Linked DNA regions of Homo sapiens. The protein of the gene in region 2 purifies or fractionates together with the protein of the main gene of each other region. This does not show direct contact. Each region holds a gene or a part of one and is shown on either strand. Other genes may lie near its edges. The genes, in order: MRPS9, ZNF2, RBM34 and RBM19.

Region 1 (7,024 bases), 9.9 Mb from region 2:
ACAGGTCTGGAAAGTTTGGCAGGAATCAGTATGATCTGTTTTGCTATGCTAAGGTAGCTGAATTTTTTACCTCTCACAAATGAAAATAGTGTTAGCATTATTATGAGCAGTTGACAGTTTCCTTCCATGCTGTACTACAAAGGTTACCCATGAATTCATAAATCCTCTATCAATATAGCTAATATAGGAATGCTAATTTGGTTTTCTATAATATTTGTGATTTTTATAATAAGGAAAAACAAAAGACCAATTGCTATTTTGAAAAATATTTCTACAAAACACTAATAGGGTGTTTTCTTAATTATTCTCTACTACTGAACACTTTCCTAGTGCTTAAATATTCAGTTTTTGCCAAGCCAAGATGCCTTTGTTGATTTAGACCATCTGCCAGAGAAGTGATCAATGACATTAAATGGCTTGGCCCTTTATATTTTGGTTTCCACTGTAAACACATTCCTGTCTCTGTCTAAAGTATCTGTTTTTTTTTTTTTAATCTCTCATGCTTCTGGAGGTTATAATATCCTGTATTTATCACAGCATTCTATTGATCTGCTTTAGTAGGATCTTAATACATTTTTTTTGACAAATGGCTAAAAAACGCTTTGAAAAACAAATTGTATAATTGACTTGAATTTGTATCAGATGCTCTGTACAGCTCTGTAAATTAGTTATGCCCTACCCCGATAATTTTTGAATATATTTATTTTTAATCCCAGTTTATTAGCAACAGAAAAGCCCTTTGGTAGGATAAACTGTTCCCTTTGAGATCTAATCCTGTCCTTGTAAGGATAGAATTGAGTGTGTTCCTCATTGCTGTAATTAGGAAAAATACCTCTACATTAAAATTTACAGTCTTTATTTGGCAATTTATATGTTTCTTATATAATAAGAGCTTGATAATAAATGCTACTATCATTCTCACCTCTCTTTTCCTTGTAAAACAAGATAACTAAACTTTCTTGTACAATGCTTCATTGTAATTAGGATGATGAACGTATCAGTTATTTATTGCTACATAACAAATTATCCTAAAACCTAGCAGCTTAAACAACAGACATTTGTTATCTACAGTTTCTGTGGGTCAGGGTTCTCCAGGCACACTTTGTTGGGTCCTCTTGCTCAGGGTCTCTGGTAAGGCAAGAGTCCAGGTATTGGCCGGGGCTGCAGTCATCTCAAGGCTCCACTGTGGGTGGGGAGAGTCTGCTTCTAGGCTCACTCAGTGTTGTAGTTAGCAGGATTTAGATTCTTGCAGGCTGTCGGGCTGAAGGCCCCAGGTCCTTGCTGGCTGTTGGCCAGAGCCCTCCCTCAGCTCCTGCCACATGGGCCTCTAGGGCAACTCAGCACATCTGGCTTCCCTCAGGCTGATGAAGAAAAGGTAAGCAAGAGAGAAGAACAGCAGGTGGCAGATTCACTGGGAGCCATCTTGGAAGCTGCCTACAACAGTGGAAGACCCACATATACTTATTTTCTTGTTATCTAAGTGTCTCTCTCATGTATTTAGGTCTTTCTTCTATGGTTCTTATGTGTGGGCATATATGGGTACCTATGTGTGTGCACATGTGGGTACATCTGAACACCTGCTGTATCATTCTTTTTGTCAGATAGGATTATTAGCTTAAACAAAACTGCATCTTTACTATGTTTTGTTTTCTTATCTCATTATAGCAACATTCTCACTTTAACATCACTCATTTCTTCTTTACAATTATTTCTGTTAACATTTAATACAGAGCCTGGTCTATAATAATTGCTCAGATTTGTTAAATGAACTTGTAAAGTAGTTTATTTTTAGAATTTTATTCTGCAAAACCAAGCATATAAAAATAGAATAATATAATGAACTCCACAGATCCATCAACCAGCTTCAACAATTATTAATAATTTCCCAGTCTTGTTTTTATTTCTCCCCTCCCACCCCCCAGAGTCATTTAATGTAAACCCCAGACATTCTGTTATTTTACTTATAGGTACTTGAATATGCATCTCTAACATAAAGGTTTTTTTAAAAAAATAGATTCCTTGCCACCGCCATATCTAACAGAATGAACAGTAATTTCTTATCATCTATTACCTATTTCATGTTCAAATTTCCCTGAATGTCCCAACAGTAGCTTTTTGTATATAGTTGGTTTATTTTAATTGGGAGTTAAACAGGGTTTATGCGTTTTATTTGATTGGTAAGTATGTTAAGTGTCTTAATTTATAACAGATTATAGAATTAATGTAAATGGTAAATTTTGTTTAAGTAAGTGGATTTCTTATTTGTTTAACATAGTATCCGTTTCCCCTTCATAGTAGTATCCCAGTTTCCCCAGGAGGAATTAGTTCTTTTTCGCTGGTTATAGTTGAGAAGACCTAGCTATAGTCCCGAATAATCTGGGGCACCTGACTCAAAGTAATCCTCAGATGTTCCTCCTCCTGAGATCCTGAGCATAGAGGCAGGACAGTTGGAATACCGTTTTGTCTTAATGGACACATTCTGATTGAACCTGCATGGATAACTTTTAGCTGATAGAGATCCCTTGGACCCTGCCTGCTTTCCTTTCTTTTTTCTTTCCTTTTTTTTAGAATTTTTATTTATTTTTATGTTTTATTTTTTGAGACAAGAGTCTTGCTCTGTCACCCGGGCTGGAGTGTGCAGTGGTGCAATCTCGGCTCACTGCAACCTCCGCCTCCTGGGTTCAAGCAGTTCTCCTGCCTCAGCCTCCCAAGTAGCTGGGATTACAGGTGCCCACCACCACACCCAGCTGATTTTTATATTTTTAGTAGTGACAAGGTTTCACTTTGTTGGCCAGGCTGGTCTCAAACTCCTGAGCTTGTGATCGGCCTGCCTTGGCTTCCGGAAGTGCTGGGATTACAGGCGTGAGTCACCACGCCCGGCTGCAATTTTTTTTTTTTTTTCTAAGATGGAGTCTTGCTCTGTTGCCCAGGCTGGAGTGCAGCGGTGTGATTTCGGCTCACTGCAACCTCCGCCTTCTGGGTTCAAGTGAGTCTCCTGCCTCAGCCTCCCAAGTAGCTGGGATTATAGGTGCCTGACACCATGCCCAGCTAATTTTTGTATTTTTAGTAGAGATGGGGTTTCACCATGTTGGCCAGGCTAGTGTCGAACTCCTGACAGTTGATCCGCCCACTTCGGCCTCCCAAAGTGCTGGGATTACAGGCATGAGCCACTGCGCCTGGCTGCAAATTGTTCTTAACAGTGGCAAAGCAAATTCCCTTCAAGAATTCTTGGTGTTTTTAGCTAAAGATCTGTTTTTTTCACACTCTTAGCCTCACCTTATTTAATGGATTGTACCAATGAATAATGGACTCCTTTGAATGTAAATATTTTTGTGTGAATTCATTGCTGGAATAATTCTGGACTTTTAATAAACATATTCAATATCCTGCTACTGATGCTGTGATAACTTTGTAAATTTAATATTATAAATTTCCAGAATGCCATACTCTTAAGCAATGTGTAGAAATGTCTTTGAAAAAGATCCTAAGGACTTTTTATGAAAAATAGCAAATTAGGGCCATTTTTTTAAAGCCCTTTCTAAATGGACAACAATGAAAATGTTTATAAATATGTTTAAACCTCAATTATGTTAAAAGTAGGAAAGCCACCACCTTATGTCACAAACTCTGGAGACTATAGGCAGACACAATTTTAAATCAAGTGAAAAACCAAGTCTTCAATAATCGAGACTCTTTTGCTTGAGAAGATGCTAAAATGTTGTAGGAGCAAAAGGAACAGTGTGGAAGAGACAGCTGAAGAAAATACAAAGGGATATTTACCTAACAAAATGGAAGAATTATTTTACCACAGCTACTTAACACTGTCAAGGACATTTAAAAATCAGTTGAGTGAGGAGGAGCTCTATGAGATGGGATAAGACAAGAAGATATGATTAAAGGAAACTGTTGAGGTAAGAATTTTGAGGATAGACCAATGATATAAAAAGCTAAAAATTCATAGTGGCTGCAGTAAGCAGAATTGACACTGTAGAAAGAGGGAAAAAAACATGGAGTAAAGATTTCAAAATCATACAGAATGCAGAAAAGGGATAAGAAATAAGACTAAGAGAAGCTGATCTAAACTATGGAGAACAGAAGAACAGATAATTGCTGTGGCTGAAAAAGAGCTGAATAAGTCAGTAAGAATTCATTGGATATTTATTTTTGAAGTTGATAGTACATTTAAACATTTTATTCAGAGACACATGTATTGTCACTGGTAAAATGAGAGCAAGCTGTATATGGTCCAAATTGCCAGCTCAAAAGCCAAAAAAAAAAGAAAACCCAATTCTTTTTTTTTTTTCATATAGCAAAAGAAAGAAAATAGGAAGGAAGCATTAAAAAATGTAAAGATTAAATAAGATGAATGACAAGACCGAATAGCTGTTAAACCCCATGTAACTTGGGTATTCTCATCTACTAAAATCTCAGATTGGGTTAAAAAAACAAAACCTAAAAAAAATAGTCTAAAACTTAAATGAAAAAGATGGGCAGTGATATTCCAGGGAAATGTAAATAGGAGGTTGAAAGGGTTGCAATATTATGACCCAACAGAATTGAAGAAAAAAAATATTACATAGGAGTAGAAAACTTTGTAATGCTGAACGGTACAATCTACCCTAAGATGTAACTCTCTGGAACTAAATAGCACATTGAATATACCGATGAAACATACAAAAGAAACCAACCATAGGGAAATAAAATTGACAAAAGATTACAGACATTGTATGGATATAGATTCCTGTCTGGAATTATTCTCCTGGCTCACTAGTAATGAGAATTACCTCTAAGTATGAATGAATACTTAAAATTTTTTTCTCTAATTTCTTTGGGAGACAGAGTCTCCCTCTGTTGCCCAGGCTGGAGTGCAGTGGTGCGATCTTGGCTAACTGCAACCTCCGGCTCCCCGGTTCAAGCGATTCTCCTGCCTCAGCCTCCTGAATGACTGGTATTACAGGCGCACACCACCATGCCCTGCTAATTTTTGTAATTTTTAGTAGAGATGGGGTCTCACAATGTTGGCCAGGCTGGTCTCAAACTCCTGACCTCAAGTGATCCACCTGCCTTGGCCTCCCAAAGTGCTAGAATTACAGGCGTGAGCCACCGCACCCAGACATCTCTAATTTCTTTCTGACAGTTTTTCTGTCTATACTTTACAACCACTGCATCACAGTTCTTTGAATATGAGGTGTTCAGTCTGTTAAACCTACCGCCTTTTGCTCTCAGCAGACAGACCATCTTCTATTTCATAGAGAAAATAGAGGGTGTAAGACATAAGTAACCTTGCCTTTCTGCCTACCTTCCCTCACCTACAAACAATTTGTTTCATTACTAGTAGAAGACATGTTTTTTGTCCTAACGCTAATGCTTGCCATTTTTTCTCCTTCTCTTTTAAGTGTCAACATCATGTCTCAGGTGATTAACAGACCTGTATCTGAAGCTCAGGTCTGTCCATGCTCACACCCACAAAGCCACCTGCCTCCTGGACATCTGTCTTCCTGGGATGTCCATCAACATCTCACACACATTCTCAAATTTGAACGCATCACTTTCCTCCCTGATCTTGCTCCTCCTCTGGAATCCCTTCAGTGAAAGGAGCCATACGCTCCAGGAGGCACATTTCCTGAGGGCTGTGGTTGGTGATTGGCAGGGAGTGTGGTTGTAGTGACCTAAAAGAAAGTCTTTGTGGGTTCACCTGTATTAGGGTTGTTTTAGCTGTGAACAAAAACATTTTGTCATGTTATCTATAAAAACCAGCAGTGTAATCATCCTTTTGGCAATGGAACATTTGGGAGAATTATCTACTATATGATTGCTACTTTTTGGCCCCCAAATCACACCTTTGCTATGATTCTTGGGGTAGAAAGATAATTTCTCTTCACTTTGAATATGTGAAGCAACATTCTCCATTGCCCAAAGAAGACGTAGACTCATAAAGAACAAATTTTAAAATCCCCTGGAAAACAGTAAAAACGTTAAGATGGGAACCACTATGGTAGGGAGTTGGTGCTGGTGGCGCTGGGCTGTGGCAAGGGGAGCAGGGGTGTACAGACAGGCTGTGTCTATAAAAGAGCGGACCATGCATTAGCCAGTTGTGGTCATGCTTTTACTCATTGACAGCAATACTGTATCTTCACAAAGCATTGTGAGAAACGATAATGATTGGTTAGTAATATATTTTAGAAGGATGTGATCTCCTAAGTAAAAATAAACTCAAGTTTCAGAGAATTTTAAATTGCCCTTTTCTTACTCATTAAAAAGTAAGAAGAAACTCTATTTTTACTATCTTAATTTGGAAGAGTTTAAAAACATATATTTTTTTCATTAATTGGGTATTGTTACATTTCTCCTGTATTTTTTCTTATATTTTCTTGTGTAACTTTAGTGACAAATTACTGTAGAGGCATCTGAATTTAGGACTCTTGGAAGGGAAGGGGATGGAGGTAGGAGGGATGGTGCCAGTGAATGATGTCTGTCTGAGAGAGATTTATGTTTATGAAAAAGGAAGTGAGTGGATTCCTAAGATTGTGGTTTTAAGGCCTGAATATTGCTTTAAGAGTGTTTAGAATTGTTGGGGCCAGGATGAAGGTTGAGAACTACAGGTTTGAGATCTTAAGAAAAGCCAGGACCAGAAAGATCTGTTCTAGTTATTTCCAGCTACGGGATGCAGCTGAATGTCATTTGAAAACATTTTTCTCGTTTTTTAGCATCTTTGACTGAAGGCGAAATCTTCATGCCTTGGAGGGAAATTCCTAGTGCCACAGCATAAAAGGACCAGCAGCAGCAAGTGTGATATAATTACTGATGCCTTTAAAAGATATGCGAGCCCTTTGGGTATATACCCAGTAATGGGATGGCTGGGTCAAATAGTATTTCTAGTTCTAGATCACTGAGGAATCGCCACACTGACTTCCACAATGGTTGAACTAGTTTACGGTCCCACCAACAGTGTAAAAGTGTTCCTATTTCTCCACATCCTCTCCATAAAGACACATGCACACGTATGTTTATTGCGGCACTATTC
Region 2 (7,024 bases):
AATGGTAAAGAGAATAGATTTTGAAGGTGGACCTGTCTTCAAGACCTGGCATCACCTTTTACCAGCTGGTTCACCTTGGGCAAGTGATTTAATCTCTCTAAACCTCAGGGTGCTCATCTGGAGATGCAGATGGTAACAGTGCCTACTTCATATGGTTGGTGACAGGATCAATTAATCTACTTCCTGTAAAACCCTTAGCTGAGTCTTTACCTCATCGCAGGTGCTCAGTAAGTGCTAGCTACTAGCAGTGGAAGTAAGAGGTCTAAAAGCTGGGACACAAGAGAACAAGATTAGTGCCCCAAAATGCTCCAAGAGAGGGGGACTAACAGCCATCAAAACAAATGTTCTGAAAAAAAAAAATAGTACTGCTGTGATATCATTCTGCCTTTCCCTCCTGTTGCAGCCTCCAGTTTCTTAAAGTGCAGTGATACCTGGGGCCTAGGTTCTCAGACAAGAGGTGTGTCTCCTCCTAACATCTATCCTATTGTCTGACAAACCTCTTCAAAATTTTGTATCTTTAGAGTCATTTCCATGGCCTCCCCTACAGTTCTATAACACAGCAGGAAGGGAGTGCTTATTAAACACTCTGGCGCAGAAGCAGGACAGGACAACGGCAGCCAGAGTGGGTAGAATGAGCAAATGGCAGCTTTAAGACAGGCGAGATCTATCTCAAATTTGTATGGAAGTTCTTGTCCTACCCAAGCTTTTGCCCAACTCAGTCTATTCCCTGTTTGGCGTAACGCCGTTGATGTTGAATAACAGAAGATTTTGAACTGAAAACTTTCCCACACACAGTGCATTCAAAGGGCTTCTCTCCCGTGTGGACACGCTGATGCCGCGTGAGCCGGCACCGCTGGCTAAAGGCTTTCCCGCATTCGCTGCATTCATATGGCTTGTCTCCAGTGTGGATCTTCTGATGCTGTGTAAGGGATGAGCGGTCAAAGAAAGCTTTGCCACACTCGTTACACTGATAGCGAGGGTCCCCAGCATGAGCTTTCTGATGTCTATTCAGAGACGAGACACCATAGAAAGCTTTCCCGCACTCGTTACACTCATAAGGCTTCCTGCCAGTGTGGATTAGCTGATGGCGAGTAAGAATACTTTTCTGGCTAAAGGCTTTCCCACACTGATGACATTCATAAGGACTTTCTCCAGTGTGAATTCTCTGGTGTCGAGTAAGGGATGAACGGTCAAAAAAGGCTTTTCCACACTCGTTGCACTGAAAGGGTTTCTCTCCAGTGTGAATTCGCTGATGGACAGTTAGGGACGAACGGTCAAAGAAGGCTTTTGAGCACACACTGCACTCGTAGGGGCTCTCCCCAGTGTGTGACATCAGATGTCTGCTGAGGCTGCTCCTGTGGCTGAAGGCTTTCCCACACTCGCGGCAGTCGTAGGGCTTCTCCCCAGTGTGAGTCCTCTGATGGCGGGTGAGGGATGAGTGGTCAAAAAAGGTCTTCCCACAGTCACTGCATTCCTGGTGTCTCTCTTTAGTGAGAATTTCCCTGGACAGGGCTGACCGTCGCCGCAAGCCTTTGTCCCGGGAGAGGGATTTCTTACGAGTCTCCCCTGAAGGGCTTTGCTTTTCTGTTCCCATCCTGCCATTGGGTGTATGAACTTCAAATTTAGGACACAGAGGACTTTGCCTTCCAAGGCATTCCCTCAATGATCCTTCTGATTTTTTGTCTGAAGCATCGTGAATCTCAGGCTTAGTTTCCCAGTCTGGAACAAACAGAAAACAGATGCAGTTTTTTTCCTGGGCTAGGAAATATTACAGAAAGAAGAGATGCTCCGATGAGTCTGAAAGTAATGTATGGTCACTGCATTGCTTGCTCCCATAGATAGTCTTACACGGCAGGGAGGGACTAAGACCTGGGAGTGAAGAAGGTGGCAGGGAACAGAATGGATGGTGGACACCTCAGAAAACAGGAGAATGTCCAGTGGGAGCATGGCCAGGACAATCAGGAGAGCATGCCGAATAGACAGGATGGCACTCAATAGCAATAGCAAAGTGTGGCTGGGCATGGTGGCTCACACCTGTAATCCTAGCACTTTGGGAGGCCAAGGTGGGCGGATCACCTGAGGTCAGGAGTTCGAGACCAGCATGGCCATCATGGCGAAACCCCATCTCTACTAAAATACAAAAATTATCCAGGCGTGGTAGCGGGTGCCTGTAATCCCAGCTACTTGGGAGGCTGAGGCAGGCAGAATCGCTTGAACCTGGGAGGTGGAGGTTACAGTGAGCTGAGATAGCGCCATTGCACTCCAGCCTGGGCAACAGAGCGAGACTCTGTCTCAAAAAAAAAAAAAAAAGAAATAGCAAAGTGTGAGTGCACAACGTTACAGACGTGAGAAAGTAACACTTGGTGAATATAGATGAATAACACGTTAAGGTGTAGAGGGAAAAAAATAAAAGCTATTGGGTGATATACAATAAATAATAAAGCAGAAGACTTGAATTTGAGAGAAAGATGATACCTGTTATTTCCCCCATCACCCAAATAACAAAAAGCCAAACAAAATTCCATTCTGTCTTGTTCACACTCAGTTACCTAGAGAGACACTCTCTGGCCATTCTCTCTCCTCAGACCCATGAAGATCTACCATCCACGGCTTGTCCCCTCTCTTCAATTGGAAAATCACATCAGGTTGAGGAACTGGAAGGCCTGCTCAAAGAGAAAGAAACAAAGCAGGTGGCTGTGTGTGATGAAAATAATATCACTCTCCCAAAGCTCAATCCCAGCCTCTAAGATTTTTTTGTTGTTGTTGAGACAGCATCTCACTCTGTCGCCCAGGCTGGAATGCTGTGGCCTGATCTCGGCTCACTGCAACCTCCATCTCCCAGGTTCAAGTGATTCTCCTGCCTCAGCCTCCCAAGTAGCTGGAATTATAGGCGGGTGCCACCACACCTGGCTAATTTTTGTATTTTTAGTAGAGATGGGGCTTTGCCATCATGGCCACGCTGGTTTCGAACTCCTGACCTCAGGTGATCCACCTGCCGCGGCCTCCCAAAGAGCTGGGATTACAGGCATGAGCCACTGAGCCTGGCCACAGCATCTAAGTCTTTTAGAGAGAAAATGCAAAAGGCAGAACGCACAAGCCAAGAATGCAGAGTCCAAAGCAGAGGAACCTCTGGACGGAGGCCAGGACTGAGGCTATAAAAGGAGCAAGTGGCACAAGGTCAGAAGGTTGAGAGAACCCGTGTAGATTCACGTGTTTATTCTTCCCTGTGAAGTGAATGGGAAGTTCCCAGTGTTAGCACTGGTAGGATGAAGGTCGTTGGCTTAGGAGAGATGAGAATGAAATTAAGTCACCTTGAGTAAAAAGTGTATCCAAACTGCCCATTTTTGTTTATTTGTTTGCCTTGAACATTGTGCTTTCATTGAAACAAGTCTGTCCGGTGCATTCTAGGAAAATTAGAAGTGTATACAAGCAAAAAGAAAAAATCACCTTGCCTACAGTGTATTTTCTTTCTTTCTATTCAGATATCCAAAGACACCCATAAATACATTCTGTTAAAAACTGGATAATGAGGCTGGGCACAGTGGCTCCTGCCAGTAATCCCAGCACTTTGGGAGGCCGAGATGGGTGGATCACCTGAGGTCAGGAGTTCAAGACCAGCCTGGCCAACATGGTGAAACCCTGTCTCTACTAAAAATACAAAAATTAGCAGGGCATGGTGGCCCATGGCTGTAATCCCAGCTACTTGGGAGACTGAGGCACGAGAATTGCTTGAACCCTGGAGACAGAGGTTGCAGTGAGCCGAGATTGCATCACTGCACTCCAACCTAGGCAACAGAGTGAGACTCTGTCTCAAAAAAAAAAAAAAAACAAAAAAAACCAAACCTGGATAATGAAATGACGCTGATTTGTAAAGCTGATTTTTTTTCACACAATAAATTTAAAATACCATTTTATTTATATCAGTACTGATCTACCTCACCATTGTAATGGCTACGGGATATGACATTGTATGGATAACATAATTTATTTAATGAATTCCCTTATGATAGAAATTTAGACCATTTTTAACGTTTTGCTATTAACAAACAATAGTGTGATGAACATCTGCATACACCATGGACTACTAGTCCTATTATTTCCTTAGGATAAATTCCCTGAAGCAAATCTATCCATTTTTGGTTATATTAAAAAATAGATCCTGGAAATAGGCTTGGGCTCTAAACTTCCCTTTTGCTGAGGCCCCAACTTGGGAAAGAGGCACTTTCTTATTGGGCCCAAGGATTGTCTACCGGGTTTTCTGTGGATTCTCTGTTGACAAAACGGCCACACCCAGCATCTCCCTGTGGCTCTCTGTCCCTGACCTCAGGGGTTCTATTTTCCTCAATATGCCATCTACTAAAGCCTGTAACAAATGCTCCTTTGATGCCTCCTGAATATTCCATTCTGTTTGGGAGACAATTGGCCTGATTAAGTTAATCTGGGGGGTGTTAGCACTTACTTTTTGACCTGCCTCGTAGGAAATCTGCAATGTGACTCCTTTTACTGCCATCTGCTGCTTATTTTAAGCCGGTTTCTCAATCTGGGCACTCTCTCAGCCTCTCGTGAAGCTCCTGAAAGGTTCTCATAACCTCCAGGAGCCCAACTTTACTTTTCACTAACACCAGAATCAGCAGTGACTCTTAACTTTCTCTTTGTCACACAAGTCTCTATAATTACAAAGTGTCTTCTGTGAGCATCTAAGACTGTACCTAAGACAAATATTCAAAATCAAACATATATCTGGTGACCTCAGAGGCACAACCCTGAATTCCGACAAGATGGCCCCCTACCCCAGCGCACACTCCTCTGGGTGAGCTGAGTTACCTAACTGGCGAACTGGGAGAACTGGGCATATGAAACTCAGCGTCTTCTGCCTGCCCCTCTGGAGCGCCAGCTCCCTGCCTCTAACACACATTCCGCTCTGTCCCTCAGCCCTCGCTGGCCCTCCCTGAATTTTGCCGGGCAGGCTGCTGAGCGAGAGAGCCTATGGTCATCCAGCACTGCCCATGGCTGGGGAGGCATGTCTGCCCAATGCTGGGGTTCAGTATTGAGCCCGCCGTTGCTGTACTCTGATGCCACATCTTTCGACTCTTACTTTATCTCTCAGGTGGCTCAGAACTCAGCGGGGAGGAGAACGGTATTAATTCCTCAGCCCTCTCAGCCCCACATTAGCATAGTACAGACTGTACCTCCTCATGGAGGCTCCCCTTACCCAATGACACAATGCTGTTATAGTTCTCCAGCATCACCTCCTTGTAGAGGTCCCTCTGTATGGGGACCAGACGACTCCACTCTTCATCTGTGAAAACCACGGCAACGTCTTCGAATGTCACTGATTCCTGAAAATACAATCACATTCTCCCTTACTCTTAATCCTTCTCTTTACTTGGACCAGACCAAAAATGTCAAAGATGACAGCCCTGGAGGACGCATGGTGGGAGGAAAGAAAAACAGTTCTGACTGAGTAGAACTTTAAAGCATTTGGGAAAAGTGGCCTCATCACCCAAGACATGAAGTTCTTGGTCAGAATCTCACACCACTATACTTACAGCTGAGCTTCTGAATATCAGACTCTTTTTTCAGACTTCTAAAAACAGCACAAAAAAATTCCTGTGTACCCTTCACCTGGCTTCCTCAACTGTCAACATTTTCCACATTTACTTTATTTTTCTGTCTCTCTCTAGATACACATTCTCCTATCTTTTTGTTAGGCCTCTTGACTAACTTGTCAACATCATGTGTCTTTAATCCTAAATATTTCAGTGTGTATTTTGTAAAAACAAGGATGTACTGTTGTTATAATCACAGTATAACTATAAAAAATGGAGAAAATAGCATTGATCTTATACTATTATCTAATCTACAATCTTACTCAAATTTCACCAATTGTCTTTTTTTTTTTACAAATCCTTAGAATAATGGTGTTGATTAGATCATCTGTAGGATCCCTCTCATTTCATTCTAATGCTCTGTGATTCTGTAAGATTGCATCTCTTTACCTTCAGTTCTAAAACCTCAGATGAGTCTCCAGTGTGTCTGCAAAAGTTCTAGGCCAGGATGCAGAATTTAAGACTCTGCCCTCGGGCAGGAATGGAGCAAGCCACACAGTCTCTAGCACAGGAGACTCTCTTCAGGGCTCTTAGCACCCCACAGAGGTGCTCTACAGTGTGTATCACACGCCCCAGCCTAGCCCCACACTCCCTGGAACACTGGAGCCTCCTCTCAGTCCACACATGAATGTACCAAAGGGACTGTCAGGACCAGAACCAGCCCACTATTCCCCAAACCTTCCAATCAGACCCTACCATTGGCTTCTAGGCAAAATCACTCACAGTGAAGGCTCCAGGAGTTGTTAAGCCTGGTGACAAGCTAATGGGCACATGCTCACAGCAAGAAAAGGTCACTAAAGGATACCTCAAGTCAAATAGGAAAGAAATACTCCCTGTGGAGTCCTTCATCTGCCTGGCTGGGTCTGCTCAAAGAGGCTCCAGGATAGAGAAAGAAAAGTGGTTACATTCTGGAGATGAATGGAGTATTTCGGGAACACAAAAGTCCACCTCACCTGGCATCTGGTGGTCGGAGACACAGCAGCCATTCTCTCCTGTGTGCTCTCCTTGTGGACAAGGGCAGAGTCCTAATGAGGCAGAAGTGGGGGGTGAGAAAGAAGGTAGGAGAAAGACCAGTCCTGTCGCATAGTCTTTTGACCCATGAAGCACATACCAGGGGGATATGTCATCCTCAATACCTTACAAAAGGGGGTCTAAGTAAAGCAAAGCCAGGAACAATCCCAGACCACCCCAGAATTAGAGCCAACAACCATGGAACTGCGAATTAGACCACAATGTGGTGGTGGTTTTTACCACGATGCTAGAGGCAGAGTTCTGTTCCTGAGAGTCAAGAACTGTGTAAGATTCACACAGTACGTAAAAATTCACATTCAATATTGCCCTGAATGATTACTGGGCAAAAGCCATTAGCAATTTTATAAATGACTACATGGACAAGACATATCAAAGACAATCCA
Region 3 (7,896 bases), on a different chromosome or scaffold from region 2:
CAACATGGTGAAACCCCATCTCTACCAAAAAAATACAAAAATTAGCTGGGTGTGGTGGTGGGCGCCTGTAATCCCAGCTACTCAGGAGGCTGAGGCAGGAGAATCGCTTGAACCCAGAGGCGGAGGTTGCAGTGAGCAAAAATTGCACTGTTGCTCTCCAGCCTGGGCGACAACAGTGAAACGCCATCTCAAAACAAAAAAAAAAAACAAAAAAAAACGAGGGATAAGGGAAAGAGGCGAACGTGGATGGATCTGACGGCACAGTCCCTAAAAAGGCAGAACATATGTGGTACACACAGCACCCAGGTGGTTGAGTTAATCTTGGACAAGAGGGAAGACACTCTGCTCTAAGAAAGAGGGGAAGAAATATGGCTGTGTACAGATGCATTAAGTTTAAATAGGACAAAAAGTAGCAGTTCCCAACTGTCAGTGATTAACAGCTCCAGAACTGGTACAAAGGTCTTCAGTTGAAATGAGAAAAGGGAAAAGGAAATAAGGGGCTTGAGGAGAGTGGCAAAGAAGAGAGGAATGAAGACTGTTAGCTAGGTACACGTGATGGGATCACTATTTGCATCTTGATTCAAATACACTGTTAAACAACGTTATGCTGGCCGGGCATGGTGGGTCATGCCTGTAATCCTAGCACTTGGGGAGACGGAGGTAGGAGGATGGTTTGAGCCCAGGAGTTCAGGACTAGCCTGGGCAACATAGCAAGACCCTGTTTCTATTTTTTTACTAAAAAAAAAAAAAAAATGCTGACTGGATCACTTGAGTCCAGCAGTTTGCGACCAGCCTGGGCAACATGGCAAAATCCCGTCTCTACAAAACATACAAAAATTAGCTGGGCATGGTGGGGCATGCCTATAGTCTAAGCAACACAGGAGGCTGAGGTGGGCGGCTGGATTGAGTCTGGGAAGCAAAGATTGCAGTGAGCCGCAATCGCACCACTGCACTCCAACCTGGGTGACAGAGCCAGACCTTGTCTCAAAAAAAAAAAAAAAAAGTTAATGAGGGAAATGAATAAATTTAAGAACACCAAACTCGGCCAGGTGTGATGGCTCACGTATGTAATCCCAGCACCTTGGGAGGCGGAGGCAAGTGGATCATGAGGTCAAGAGTTCGAGACCAGACTGGTCAATATGGTGACACCCCGTCTCTACTAAGAATACAAAAATCAGCTGGGTGTGATGGCGCGCCCATAGTCCCAGCTGCTCAGTAGGCTGAGGCAGAAGAATCACTTGAACCCAGGAGGCGGAGGTTGCAGTGAGTCAAGATTGCGCCACTGCACTCCAGCCTTGGCGACAGAGTGAGACTCCAGCTCAAAAAAAAAAAAAAAAATTTTTTTTTTAAAAAGCAAACCAGGCCAGGTGCAGTGGCTCATGCCTATAATCCCTGCACTTTAGGAGGCTGAGGTGGGTGGATCACCTGAGGTCAGGAGTTCAAGACCAACCTGGCCAACATGATGAAACTCTGTCTCTACTAAAAACACAAAAAATTAACCGGGCATGGTGGCACCTGTAATCTCAGCTCCACGGGAGGCCTGAGGCAGGAAAAATCACTTAAACCCGGGAGGTGGAGGTTGCAGTGAGCTGAGATCAGGCCACTGCACTCCAGTCTGGACAAAAAGAGCAAAACTCCGTCTCAAAAAAAAAAAAAGAAACGCAAACCAAATTCTTTTATATACATGCTGAAATATTTATAGATGAAACATAAATTTTCATTTTGCTTCCAAATAATGAGGTGGTAGCTGGGCGAGGTGGCTCACACCTGTAATCTCAACACTTTCGGAGGCCGAGGTGGGCAGATCGCTTGAGGTCAGGAGTTCCAGACCTGCCTGGCCAACATGGTGAAACCCTGTCTCCACTAAAAATACAAAAATTAGCTGGGCATGGTGACGCAGGCCTGTAGTCCCACCTACTCAGGGCCGAGGCAGGAGAATCGCTTGAACCTGGGAAGCGGAGGTTGCAGTGAGCTGAGATCACTGCACTCTACTGCAGCCTGGGCGTGGCATCAAGACTCCATCTCAAAACAAACAAAAACAAATAATGAGGGGGTATATGAGTGGGGTAAAAATACAAAAAGGTTAGCCAAATATTAGTAATTGCTGATGCTGAGTACACGGGGTTTCTTAGCCTTTTCAACTTTTCTATATGTACTGGATTTTCCATAATAAAAGTTTTGAAAGAAAGTAGAAATATGAAATAAAACTGACGAATATTCCAAGTATAGGAATGTTAATTTACCATCTAATTTCTTTAACATCAAATAAGAGAATTTTACCAACCTGTCTGCCAACTTTTTTTCTGCGTTAGTGTGTTTCTTCTTCGCTTTCACTTTTTTGGCAGGTTCTTGCGAAAGTGGTCTTTCAATCTGGGATGTACTTTCTTCCTCCTCATTCCGTTTCGTTTTTTTGATGGTTTGCTTTTTAAAAGTTTGAAGTTATATTTGAGACCCCATACTTCTAGAATTCTGACCCTAAGCCATAATTCAGTCTTTCTAAATGAGAATCTCTTCTCTCTCACTGGTATGTAAGAGTCATGAAAGGTTACTTAAAATGAATCCTGTCTGCCCCCTTTAGAAATCACGCTTCACGCGGTAGGTAAGAAGATTGCTTTGTATGTAAGTGGTTCTAACGAGCTATTCGGGAAGAAAGCCCAGTGACTTACTTTAGGCACAGGCACGTACACGGGTTGAATCTGGGGCTCCAGAGAACTGAAGAGGGACGCCAGCCGACCGGTGCCACCTCTGGAATGGTGTTCGCCGCGAAATAAGCTACTGGCGACCTGTCCAAGCCTGTAGTCTTCCGGCGGACTCCCGCGAACGCCGTCGTCAGGATTCTCTCTAGAAATGGACGACAGAAACTCAGCCACGCCACGCACCACCGCTTCGCCAGCACGAGGGAACGTACAACATCCCTCCCCAGGTACTCGTGCCGCGCGCCACTCACCCCTCCTGGACACTTCTCTTTCTCTTCCGTTTGCTCATCCCTTCCAAGGCCATTCTTACTCCAAAGACTCCCAGACTGCAGCTGCGCGCCAGCTCGCACTTCCGGGTTCCGGGCACTTCCGCTCTCTGGCCACGCCCCCTCCCCTCCGGCAGTCGGCCGCCGGGCGGCGGCGAAGGGAGGCGCTGGGTGAGGGAGCAGGTTTGTCGCCGTCGGTTGGTGGTCCTCGCCGTTTCAGAAAAGCCTCATTTTGGGAGTGAAGGACGTCTTCTGGGAGTGGTTGAAGCCTGCAGTGTGAAGAATCAGCCAGGCTAGGAGCGGGGTGTCCACCCAAGCCGAGAGAGAAACACGTAGAATACTGACTTGTTGAAAAGGAGGGAGGGAGGTTTGGCAAGAAATGCGGTTAGGGGTGAACGCAGTGGGGTGTTTACAATTTGCTAATCGCTGTGAAGAGTACAAAGGAATTCTTTGTACTCTTCTTGCAACTTGTCTGAAACATGACATTATTCCAAAATAAAAACCACAACTCTAACGAGTCACGTCAACATACAATTCGAAAGATTGTAATGCGGACCTGCTATTCTACCTGGAAAAGTAGATACTTGGCATTCAAAACGCTTCAAGGTGTTCTCAGCCCGTCTTCCCAGACTCATCTCCCTCCAGCCCCTGACATTCTAGCCTGCTTTCTCCACTGCCTCTACAGTTGTTATTCCTGTCCCCTCTGTTGTAATTGCCCTCCTCTTTCCCCTTCTGCAAAATAATGTCCATCCTTCAAGGCCTACCTCAGATACTGTCTAACTTAGTATTTCTTTGCAGCCAGGTGCGGTGGCTCGCCTGTAATCCTAACACATTTGGAGGCCGAAGTGGGAGGATTGCGTGAGGACTAGGAGTTTGAACCAGCCTGGTCGATCTAGCGAGACTTATTCTCTACAGAAAAGAAATTAGACGGGCACCTTCGCGCTCGGCGCCTGTAGTCCCAGCACTTTGAGAGGCTCGGGCAAGAGGATCCCTTGAGCCCTGGAAGGTCGAGGCTGCAGTAAGCTGTGATCGCATCACTACACTCCAGCCTAAGCGGCAGACCCTGGCTCAAAAAAAAAAAAAAAAAAATTCTTTGCTATTTACAATAGGGATATTTTCCCAAGCCCCCATGGTACTTACTATAATCATTTTTGGTCTGCTTTAGTGTTAGTTACAGTCTCTTTAGATGTAAAGGCAAGACAGTAAGGATTATGTTTTATTCATCATGTATGCTGTGTCTCTATTAGCTGTACATAGTGAATATTTGTTAAATTGACTCTCAGGGTAATAAAAGATTACTAGTTAAATCATCCAATAGTTTGAGTGGCAAAATAGGATTTGACTTTGTTCTTATTTTCTTTCAGACAAGGTGTTGCTCTGTCACCCAGACTGGAGTGTAGTGGTGAGATCACGGCGCACTGCAGCCTTGACTTCCTGGGCTCAAGCCATCCTCCCACCACGGAGTAGCTGGAACTGCAAGCAGCAGCACCATGCCCAGCTAATTTTTTTTTTTTTTTTGGAGACAGAGTCTCGCTCTGTCGCCCAGGCTGGACTGCAGTGGCGCGATCTCAGCTCACTGCAACCTCCGCCTCCCGGGTTCAAGTGAGTCTCCTGCCTCAGCCTCCCAAGTAGCTGGGATTACAGGTGCATGCCACCATGCCCAGCTAATTTTTGTATTTTTTTAGTAGAGACCGGGTTTCACCATGTTAGCCAGGCTGGTCTCGAACCCCTGACCTTGTGATCCGCCCACCTCAGCCTCCCAAAGTGCTGGGAGTACAGGTGTGAGCCACCGCGCCTGGCCTTTTTTTTTTTTTTTTTTTTTAAATAGAGATTGGGGTTTCACTGTGTTTCCCAGGCCGGTCTTGAACTCCTGAGCTTGAGCAGTCCTCCTGCCTTGGCCTCCCAAAGGGTTGGAATTACAGGCGTGAGCCACTGCATCCAGCCAGGATTTGACTTTGAGTCTTTTGGGGACAGCCTAAGCTTTTTGAAAGCTACTCAACCAAGTTGACTGGGAATATATGTGACTTTTACTTCCCCCTTCAGAGAAATTTATGAAAAAAATCCACAATATTCAACTGCTCGGCCCTGGGTTTTGATTACTGGGCCCCTTATTTTGGTTTCCCATAATCTTGATCTTCTGGTATTTCACAAAGATGAAGAAAGCTTATCCATACATGCATGCGATACAACTCAAAAATCTGTTCTATCCAGTCCAGTGAAGAAATTATATTCTATATTTCTAGAATTATAGAATTCTATTCTGTGTATTTTTTGAGACGGAGTTTCACTCTTGTTGCCCAGGCTGGAGTGCAGTGGCACGATCTTGGCTCATTGCAACCTCCGCCTCCCAGGTTCAAGCGATTCTCCTGCCTCAGCCTCCCGAGTAGTTGGGATTACAGGCATGCACCACCATGCCTGGCTAATTTTATATTTTTAATAGAGACAGGGTTTCTCCATGTTGGTCGGGCTGGTCTCGAACTCCTGACCTCAGGTGATCCGCTCGCCTTGACCTCCCAACGTGCTGGGATTACAGGTATGACCCACTGTGCCCAGCTAGGTAGCAGATACTTATAGAAGAAAACAGACTGCGAAAGCAGCTGTGGTTGCAGATAGTTTTAAAATTATCTTCATTGCTGTTCAGTGCTGTTTTTAACCATTTAGAGATCACTTACTGCTTTGAGAGTTTTTTAAAATATGAGGACATGGTGGGACAAGGTGGCTCACGCCTATAATCCCAGCACTTTGGGAGACCAAGACGGAAGGAATGCAAGCCCAGGAGTTTCAGATCAGCGACTGCGCCATTTGCACTCCAGCCTGGGCAACAAGAGCGAAACTCCGTCTCAAAAAAACAAAAGGAGGCCGGGTGCGGTGGCTTACGCCTGTAATCCCAGCGCTTTGGGAGGCCGAGGTGGGTGGATCATCTGAGGTCAGAAGTTTGAGATCAGCCTGGCCAACATGGTGAAACCCCATCTCTACTAAAAATACAAAAATTAGCTAGGCATGGTGGCGGGCGCCTGTAATCCCAGCTAGTCGGGAGGCTGATGCAGGAGAACCACTTGAACCCGGGAGGCAGAGGTTGCAGTGAGCCAAGATGGCGCCATTATACTCCAGCCTGGGCGACAGAGCGAGATTCTGTCTAAAACAAAACAAAACAAACAAAAAAAAGAAATTAACAAGACCCCACTCTAAAGTTTTTTCAGTAGGAAAAAAAACGTTTTGGAGAACACCGTTAAGAAACGTATCATCTTGGGTGGGCGCGGTGGCTCATGCCTGTAATCCCAACACTTTGTGAGGTCAAGGCGGGCAGATTACGAGGTCAGGAGATCGAGACCATCCTGACTAACACGGTGAAACACCCCTCTCTACTAAAAATACAAAAAATTAGCTGGGTGCAGTGGCACGTGCCTGTAGTCCCAGCTACTCGGGAGGCTGAAGTAGGAGGATCACTTGAACCTGGGAGGCAGAAGTTGCAGTGAGCCAAGATTGCACCACTGCACTCCAGCCTGGGGCAACAGAGTGAGACTCCGTCTCAAAAAAAGAAAAAAAAGAAAAGAAAAACATACCATCTTAATATGTCAATTGTAAACTAACTTAGTAAAGTCTAGTTTAGGTGACCAGAAGTAGACATAGGTCAATTCTACTAATTCAATAAAATCCTCAAACCCTCTTAAGAAGGTAGGACGTAGAACAAGAAGGCAGGCGAGACAGAGAGGCACAAAGTCATAAATCTCGACTCCACCAAAATTTGGAATAATTCCCCTATTCAGCACTGTTTCTATAACATACTCAGTATGTGATATTAAGAGCTCCTCAAAAAACAGGGTTTCATGATTAGGTGGGATTGAAAACAGTAGGGTAAAGGAAGTTATTAGGCAGGTATCTCTTCACAGGCCTTCTCAAAGTTTTTAATATGCAAACACTGTGATTCTCTAAGAATGTGCTATACATAGATTTTCCAAAATATATTTGGTTATAAATTCCCAGAGCATTTCCAGGGACCAGTATTCTAGGAATTCATTTTGGGAAGCACCGTTCCACAGATTTAAAATATCATCCCTTAAACTAATTTTTGTGAAAATAAAGGGCCACCACAAAGATGCTTTAAAAAATATGTATTTAAGCTTTCTAGGCCTTAAAAAAGTTGATTTCCTTTCTCGTTTTTGTTTTTGTTTTTGTTTTTTTTTGAGACGGAGTTTCAATCTTGTTTCCCAGGCTGGAGTGCAATCTTGGCTCACTGCAACCTCCGCCTCCCAGGTTCAAGCGATTCTCCTGCCTCAGCCTCCCTAGTAGCTGGGATTACAGGCATGCGCCACCATGACCGGCTAATTTTGCATTTTTAGTAGAGACAGGGTTTCACCATGTTGGTCAGGCTGGTTTCGAACTCCTGACCTCAGGTGATCCACCCACCTCAACCTCCCAAAGTGCTGGGATTACAGGCATTAAGCCACCACGCCCGGCCTCTCTCTGTATTAAAGAAAGGTTTTCTTTTTTTTGAGGCGGAGTCTCGCTCTGTTGCCCAGGCTGGAGTGCAGTGGCACGATCTCGGCTTACTGCAAGCTCCGCCCCCCAGGTTCATGCCATTCTCCTGCCTCAACCTCTCGAGTAGCTGGGACTACAGGCGCCCACTACCACGCTTGGCTAATTTTTTTTTTGTATATTTAGTAGAGATACGGTTTCCCCATGTTGGCCAGGATGGTCTCGATCTCTTGACCTCGTGATCCGCCTGCCTCGGCCTCCCAAAGTGCTAGGATTACAGGCGTTGAGCCACTGCGCCCAGCCAAGAAAGGTTTTCTGTTGGTAGAAAGTCCAATAAGTGGGGCCAAAAAACTAGATTATAGATTTTTAGAAGTTTGCGGCAAAGCAGTGTTTCTCAACCCAGATGCATATTAATATCACTAGAGACCTTTAAAAATTAAAGATCAACATCCAGGTAC
Region 4 (7,024 bases), on a different chromosome or scaffold from region 2:
AGTTGTGAGGGTAGCCTGGCTGCAGTGAAGATGGTGAGAAGCCAGGAGCCTGTTTTCCATAGTGTGGGGCTTCTTGACCAAATTATAATAATAGTGTGTTAGTTTTTTAGTGCAGCTATAGCAAATTAGCACAAACTTAGTGGCTTAAACAATCCAGACAATCCTTATCTTACAGTTTTGCAGGTCAGAAATCCTAAAATCAAGGCTTTGGCAGGGCTGCAGTCCTTCTGGAAGCTCTGTGGGAATATCTGTCCCTTTGCCTTTTTTCAGCTTCTAGAAGCACCTGCCTTCCTTGGTTCATAGCTATATACTCCATATTTGGAGCCAATAGCATAGCATCTTCCAATCTTTCTGTTTCCATCTTCTCTGATCTTCCCGCCTCCCTCTCATAAGGACCCTTGAGGTGACATTGGACCTGGCTGCATAATCCAGATCATCTCCCCATCTCCATATCAGTCACACCTGACAAGTCCCTTTTGCCTTGTAAGGTAACATATCCACAGTTTCCAGGGATTAGGATGTGGGCATCTTTTGGGGGGGCTTTATTAACAAAGATATATATAGCTTACCATGCCTGTTCATTCTTTCATTTATTCCTACAAGTATTTATTAGGTATCTACTATGTAGCAGACGTAATACTGCTTCTGTAATTGGTCTTATCCTCATAGGAGCCCCATAGGGTAGGAAGATGTCATTTGCAGCCATTATGAGTCATGATTTCCACATCAGTGAGTGGTTAAGGGACTTTCTCAAGGCCACACAACTCGTGCTAGAGTCAGAGCTGGAACCTGTTGTAACTAGAAAAGTACACTCTGCCCCTCTTCATCTAAGGCCACCCTTGGAGAATCTCGTGGCCTCAGGTTTCCAGCCCATTTTGTCCCCTTGCTCTGGGGACTTTCCAGTTCGTCTCTCATTCCTTTCCCTCTGTCCTAGATGAAGGAGGAGCGTTTCAGGCAGCTGTTTGCCGCCTTCGGCACGCTGACAGACTGCAGCCTGAAGTTCACCAAAGATGGCAAGTTCCGCAAGTTTGGTTTTATTGGCTTCAAGTCCGAGGAAGAGGCCCAGAAGGCACAGAAGCATTTCAACAAGAGCTTCATCGACACATCCCGGATCACAGTGAGTGGGCAGGAGTCTCACCCTTACCTTCCTGTCAAGTGTGACGTTGTTTGATCTTTCACTCAGCACTTGAGTTCAAAGACCGTCCCTCTTCACTTTGTGATGTCTTTGGTTTTCTTCCTCACCGATTCACACACTTTCATGTGCATACAAATCACCTGAGAGCTTATTATAACAGCTTCCTGGGCCCGTCCCCAGAGCATCTGATTCAGTGCATGGAGTCAGGACCCAAGAATTCACACATCCAACAAGCCCTCAGGTGACGACCATGCTGCTGGTCTGAGGCCCACACCTTGAGAACCACAGCTCTACCTCATCCATTCACTCATGCATTTAGCAAGCACTCAATGATGCTGGGAGTTTAGAGAAAAAGGTGATGCCTCAGCCCCTGTCCTCATGGAGCCTGCTGTCTCTGGGCAGGCAGGGGGCTGACAGGTCAGCAGGCTGCTTTGGCTCAGTGACATCAGTGCTATGATAGGGTGAGCCCCAGGGACTGTGGGAGAACAAAGATCTATAGCCGGACCAGGGAGGAGTCAGGAAAGCTTCCTGGAGGAGTGGGCTCCACTCAGGTCACTCGTGTATTTAGTGACTTCGTAAAAACATCTCTAATGCTTTGTTGAGAAGGAAAAAACAGATGATGGATAAATATATATATGTCTCGTGATCCTATATAGACACAATCGTATTCCTCTATCCATACATATATGATAAATGCATAGAAGGCCATAGGATAGGATTTGTACCAAAATACTAATCATTCCTCTCCATGAGTGATAGGAATTGGAGTACATCTTTTTTAACTTCCATTGTACTTTTGTATATTATTTGAATTTTGTACCGTGAGCATGTCATTATTATAGAGATAACAAGCCTATTTTGGAAGTGTGCACAAAAGGGATTGTAACTGGCCAGGTGTGGTGGCTCCTGCCTATAATACAAGCACTTTGGGAGGCTGAGGTGGGAGGATCACTTGAAGCCAGGAGTTCAAGACCAGCCTGTGCAACATAGCAAGACTGCGTCTTTACAAAAATAAAAAAAAAAATTAGCCGGGCATGGTGACATGTGCCTGGAGTCCTAGGTATTCAGAAGGCTGAGACAAGAGGATCACTTGAGCCCAAGAGTTTGAGGCTGCAGTGAGCTATGATCATGCCACTGCAGTCCAGCCTGGGCAACGGAGTGAGACCCTGTGTCTTAAAAAGGATTGCAACCAGATGGCAGCTCCTTCCCCCAGGGGCAGTGGTTGGTTGACCAGCGTCAGCCTTAACTGTGGCTGGGAGTGGCTTGCGGTGGTGGATGCCCCAGTAACCAGCGCTCTCAAAGTCCTCTCAGAGGAGTGTATTGGAGGTTTTAGGGCCTGAATAGTGCGTCAGCTCAGGCTGGGTCTCCAGTACTCTTCCGTCCCTCCAGTGGTCACCCCAGTGCCCCTATCACCCTAGAATTGTTCTCTGGAGCCAGATGAGCTTACTTTATGATAATTAACCCAGGGCAGTGTGGGGTAACTGTGGTAGCCACTGCCCCACATTACCCTGCCCAGAGCCTGGTTGAGTGCTTGGCCCAGGTCATCTCATGCCATCCTCACAGCCGCCCGGTAGAGTGGATGGTTAAGAACTCAGGTTCCAGAGCCCAGAGACCCCCTGAGTTCCAGTCTTCACTCTGTCACTTATTACCTGGGTAAGCCAGGGAAATTGACTTCTTGATGCTCCAATTTCTTGATCTGAATTGTAGAAAGTCATAGCTGTCACTGACATGAGAGGCTCGGTGTATCAGTACTTGCAGAGCACTTCAGACAGTACCTGGCATGTGGAGTTCCTCAGTAAGTGGCAGCTATTACCATTACAGTATTACAGACTCATAATGATAGACTGTTAGAGTATTGTATTCTAGACTTGAAGGGAAAGAAAGCCCAGGCTAAGGGGTGACGTGTAATCTACTTCAGCAAACTCAGCTAGGCAGTGACAGTTGTCTGAAATGCCCGAGCTCCCAGGTGCCGAAGGGCAGCACCCAACGCCTGGGTGCCATGGCAGGTGTGAAAATCACTCTCTTTCCCACACAGGTGGAGTTCTGCAAGTCATTCGGGGACCCGGCCAAACCCAGAGCCTGGAGCAAACATGCCCAGAAACCAAGCCAGCCCAAGCAGCCTCCAAAAGACTCTACTACTCCAGAAATTAAGAAAGTATGTAAAGGGTCACTCTAGCCTCTGTCCCCACTGCCAGCAGGGTAGTCACTCACTTTTGGTTCCCAAAGATGGGCCCTCCCAGGTCAGTGCAGTTCTGTTTCCCAGCTCTCTTCATCTGTGTGACCCTCACTCTCTGTGCCTTCTGTTTTCAGGATGAGAAGAAGAAAAAGGTGGCAGGTCAACTGGAGAAGGTGAGTCTGTCCTGTTGCCCAAGGAGGAGAGAGGGTGGGCAGCAGGTGGAAGAGGGTGGAGACTGGAGAGGGTAGAGGCTGGGAGAGGGTGGAGGCTAGGAGACCGTAGAGGCTGGAGAGGGTGGAGGCTAGGAAAGGGAAGAGGCTGGAGAGGGTGGACACTGGGAGAGGGAAGAGGCTGGAGAGGATGGAGGCTGGCCCTGGCAAGCAGAGCTGTGCCTCTGGTCTCCCCTGGCCTTGTCTTCTTGTCCTCTTAGTTTTGTCTAGTGAGGAGTCAACTCTGCCTTCCTCAGAACTGACCCAGCTGAACCTCGGGGTCCTCCAGAGAATGGGGGAAATTAGCTTGAGGGATCTTCTCACCCTCTTAAGAGTTAGAAAGATCAAGCCCCACCTGAGCCTTCTCTGCCTCTTCCTCTCTCTTTTTCCCGTGTCCCTGCCGCCCGGGTTCTGGTGCCACCAGCTGAAGGAGGATACAGAGTTCCAGGAGTTTCTGTCAGTTCATCAGAGGCGGGCGCAGGCAGCCACTTGGGCGAATGATGGCCTGGATGCTGAGCCCTCGAAAGGGAAGAGCAAGCCGGCCAGTGACTACCTGAACTTCGACTCCGATTCTGGGCAGGAGAGTGAGGAGGAGGGAGCCGGGGAGGACCTGGAAGGTGAGGGCATGGGGACTGTGTGCTCCATGCGCACGGACCTGTGCTTGCCATTGGGCTAACCGGCACTGGGGGCCCCTCTGTGCAGACTCTAGGAGTCAGGTGAGCCCTTGAGCTCTCCATTGGGGGTGATGATCCCTCTGCAGGTGCATCTGTCTTCACTGATCCTAGTTGTGTATTCAGTCAGTCAGTCAACAAATATTTCTTGAGCACCTATTATCTGCCAGGCATACTTCAGGCATTGGGACCATGTTGATAAGCAAAAGACAGAAGGGTTTATTCCCCTATGGAGCTGTGATTATGGTTGTGGAGAGAAACAATAAGCAAATAAGTCCACTGTTGGGTATATCATAGGATGATGAATGCTACAGAGAGAAAGCAGGAAAGGCGACAGGAGAATTATGAGGGAAGGCCTCCCTGAGGAGGTGAGGGAGTGAGCCTTTGTCCTCAGAAGGGGTTTGTGGTGTGGGGGAGGCCTGGTGGGCAAGAAAACAGTTGCAACACAGGAGGGTACGTGCTTGGTGGAGAACTGGGCATCTATTTGGGTCTAAAGGTGAGAAGATGTACATTTAGTGCAGTTATGCCTGGTAACGTTTCTGCACTAAGTTCACATCCGAGGAACTCAGGGGACTTAGTGGGACACGGTAGGGGAGGGGAGAGGAAAGGGGTTCCAGTCAAGGGAACAGCATCGCAGAGACACAGAGGAAAGGAAAGTGCATGGGCTTGAGGGGCTCAATGTGGGTTGGGATGGCTTGAGCAGGAGGAGACAGTGGAAGAAGCCCACGCAGCCAGCCCTGATGAGGAGCCTGGATTTCACCCTGAGCATTCAGAAACCCCTGGAGGGTATTAAGCAGAGACTGACCGTCCTGTACCTACTCTGTAAAGTGTCACAGAGGCTGCCGTGTAGAGGACTAGGAAGACATGGCTGGTGGCAGGGAGCCAGGAGCTCAATGTGTGGCACAGAGAATATCAAAGCTGCAGTAGCCCTGCCCCGTTTTGGTATTGCTAATCAGAGGACTTATGGGGGATGCTGGGCACAGGGGCCATGGACACGGTGGGCATGGTGCCTCAGGCCTCTCACTAGGAGGACCATCTACCATTTGCTACCTCTGACCTCTGGTTTGCTCATAGCTGTCGCTGATCCCAGCTTCCCTGTTTTTCCAGAAGAGGCAAGCCTCGAACCAAAGGCAGCTGTGCAGAAGGAGCTGTCGGACATGGATTACCTGAAATCCAAGATGGTGAAGGCTGGGTCGTCCTCTTCCTCGGAGGAAGAGGAAAGTGAAGATGAAGCCGTGCACTGTGATGAAGGGAGTGAGGCCGAGGAAGAGGATTCCTCCGCCACCCCAGTCCTGCAGGAAAGAGACAGCAAGGGTGCAGGCCAAGAGCAAGGGATGCCAGCTGGGAAAAAGAGACCACCGGAGGCCAGAGCCGAGGTGCGTGTGTATCCCGCAGGTGATGAGGGAGGAGGTGCGCTCTCCTGCTTGCCCGTGGTCCCCACAGCTCCTCTGTTAGGAGAGCGGAATGTTGGGGAAAGACGCAGCTCTGCAGTCCAAAGCCTTCCCGATCTTGGCCCTGCCGCTTGCTCGCCGTGTGTTCTTTCTGCGTTTCTTTTCTGTTTTTATTTTTATTTTATTTTATTTTATTTTTTGAGACAGAGTCTCACTCTGTCACCCAGGCTGGAGTGCGGTGGTGCAATCTCAGCTCACTGCAACCTCCGCCTCCTGGGTTCAAGTGATTCTTCTGCCTCAGCCTCCTGAGTAGCTGGGATTATAGTCACACCCAGCTAATTTTTTGTATTTTTAGTCGAAATGGGGTTTTGTCATGTTAGCCAGGCTGGTCTCAAACTCCTGACCTCAAGTGATCCACTCATCTCAGCCTCCCAAAGTGCTGGGATTATAGGCATGAGCCACTGCACCCAGCCTCTGCATTTATTTTCTGTTGCTAACCTGGAGAGGTCACCTGCCTTCCAGAAATTGCCTATAAGTAGGGTGACAACTAAATTATTGTCAACACTAAGTTAAAAGTGAGATGCTAGTCCAGTGGGGTGCCAGGCTGTGGATGTAGTTACTGCAGGTCTAATGACTACAGATAGAGTGAACAACTATCCCGGGCAAACTGGAGCAGCCCCGGTCAACACACCCATATCCCACCAATGGGGCAGAAGTGAGCTGAGTGATGGCTTTGAGCCTTTATCCTTTGTATTTAGTAACAACACAGGCAGAGGGGTGCAGACCAGTCATCAGCAATCATAGGGAGGATCAACTGAGCCTGCGCTACACACTAGGCACCATGCCTGCCGTGCCGTTGCATCTCATCACTATCTGGAGGGCAGTATTGGTCTTGTTCCATTTTACAGATGAGGAAACAGGCCTGGAGAAGGAAGGTGCCTCAGCCAGGGTCATGGCTGGGAAATGGTGGGTTCAGGACTTAGCCCCAGGTCTGTGGGGTCTGAAGTCGAGATCATAAACGTGGGCGCTTCCCCAGAGGTCGGCCAACTCGTCTCTGACCTGGGAGTCCTCTCTGCATCAGAGACAGAGCAGTTTGACATGTTGTCCAGGTCCCTGTTCCCTCCTTTCTCTGTGAAGCATCACTTCTCTCCCTGCCTAGCCCTGTATTTTTTTTTTTTTTTTTTTTTTTTGAGACAGTCTTGCTGTCGCCCAGGCTGGAGTGCAGTGGTGTGATCTCAGCTCACTGCAGCCTCTGCCTCCCGGGTTCAAGTGATTCTCATGCCTCAGCCTCCCGAGTAGCTGGGATTACAGGCACACACCACCACACCCAGCTAATTTTTGTATTTTTAGTAGAGATGGAGTTTCACCATATTGTCCAGGCTGATCTTGAGCTCCTGGCCTCAAGTGATCAACCCACCTCAGCCTCCCAAATTGCTGGGATT

The links.
Region 1: the proteins of ZNF2 (region 2) and MRPS9 purify together in Homo sapiens (co-immunoprecipitation; 3 studies listed by BioGRID and IntAct, with this or other methods). This does not show direct contact.
Region 3: the proteins of ZNF2 (region 2) and RBM34 purify together in Homo sapiens (affinity purification with mass spectrometry; 2 studies listed by BioGRID and IntAct, with this or other methods). This does not show direct contact.
Region 4: the proteins of ZNF2 (region 2) and RBM19 purify together in Homo sapiens (affinity purification with mass spectrometry; 2 studies listed by BioGRID and IntAct, with this or other methods). This does not show direct contact.

What each region holds. Positions count from the first base shown.
Region 1 is NC_000002.12:105,041,051-105,048,074, forward strand, and holds part of MRPS9 (small ribosomal subunit protein uS9m), read left to right. Parts: intron 1-7,024.
Region 2 is NC_000002.12:95,175,798-95,182,821, reverse strand, and holds part of ZNF2 (zinc finger protein 2), read right to left. Parts: intron 6,635-7,024; 5' UTR 6,596-6,634; coding exon 6,563-6,595; intron 5,340-6,562; coding exon 5,213-5,339; intron 2,664-5,212; coding exon 2,550-2,663; intron 1,759-2,549; coding exon of another isoform or gene 1,720-1,758; coding exon 716-1,719; 3' UTR 1-715. UniProt on the Homo sapiens protein: May be involved in transcriptional regulation.
Region 3 is NC_000001.11:235,158,227-235,166,122, forward strand, and holds the start of RBM34 (RNA-binding protein 34), read right to left. Parts: upstream 3,025-7,896; 5' UTR 3,001-3,024; coding exon 2,948-3,000; intron 2,842-2,947; coding exon 2,667-2,841; exon of another isoform or gene 2,422-2,666; coding exon 2,285-2,421; intron 2,276-2,284; exon of another isoform or gene 1-2,275.
Region 4 is NC_000012.12:113,956,325-113,963,348, reverse strand, and holds part of RBM19 (probable RNA-binding protein 19), read left to right. Parts: intron 1-934; coding exon 935-1,117; intron 1,118-3,170; coding exon 3,171-3,290; intron 3,291-3,445; coding exon 3,446-3,484; intron 3,485-3,944; coding exon 3,945-4,137; intron 4,138-5,298; coding exon 5,299-5,567; intron 5,568-7,024. UniProt on the Homo sapiens protein: Plays a role in embryo pre-implantation development.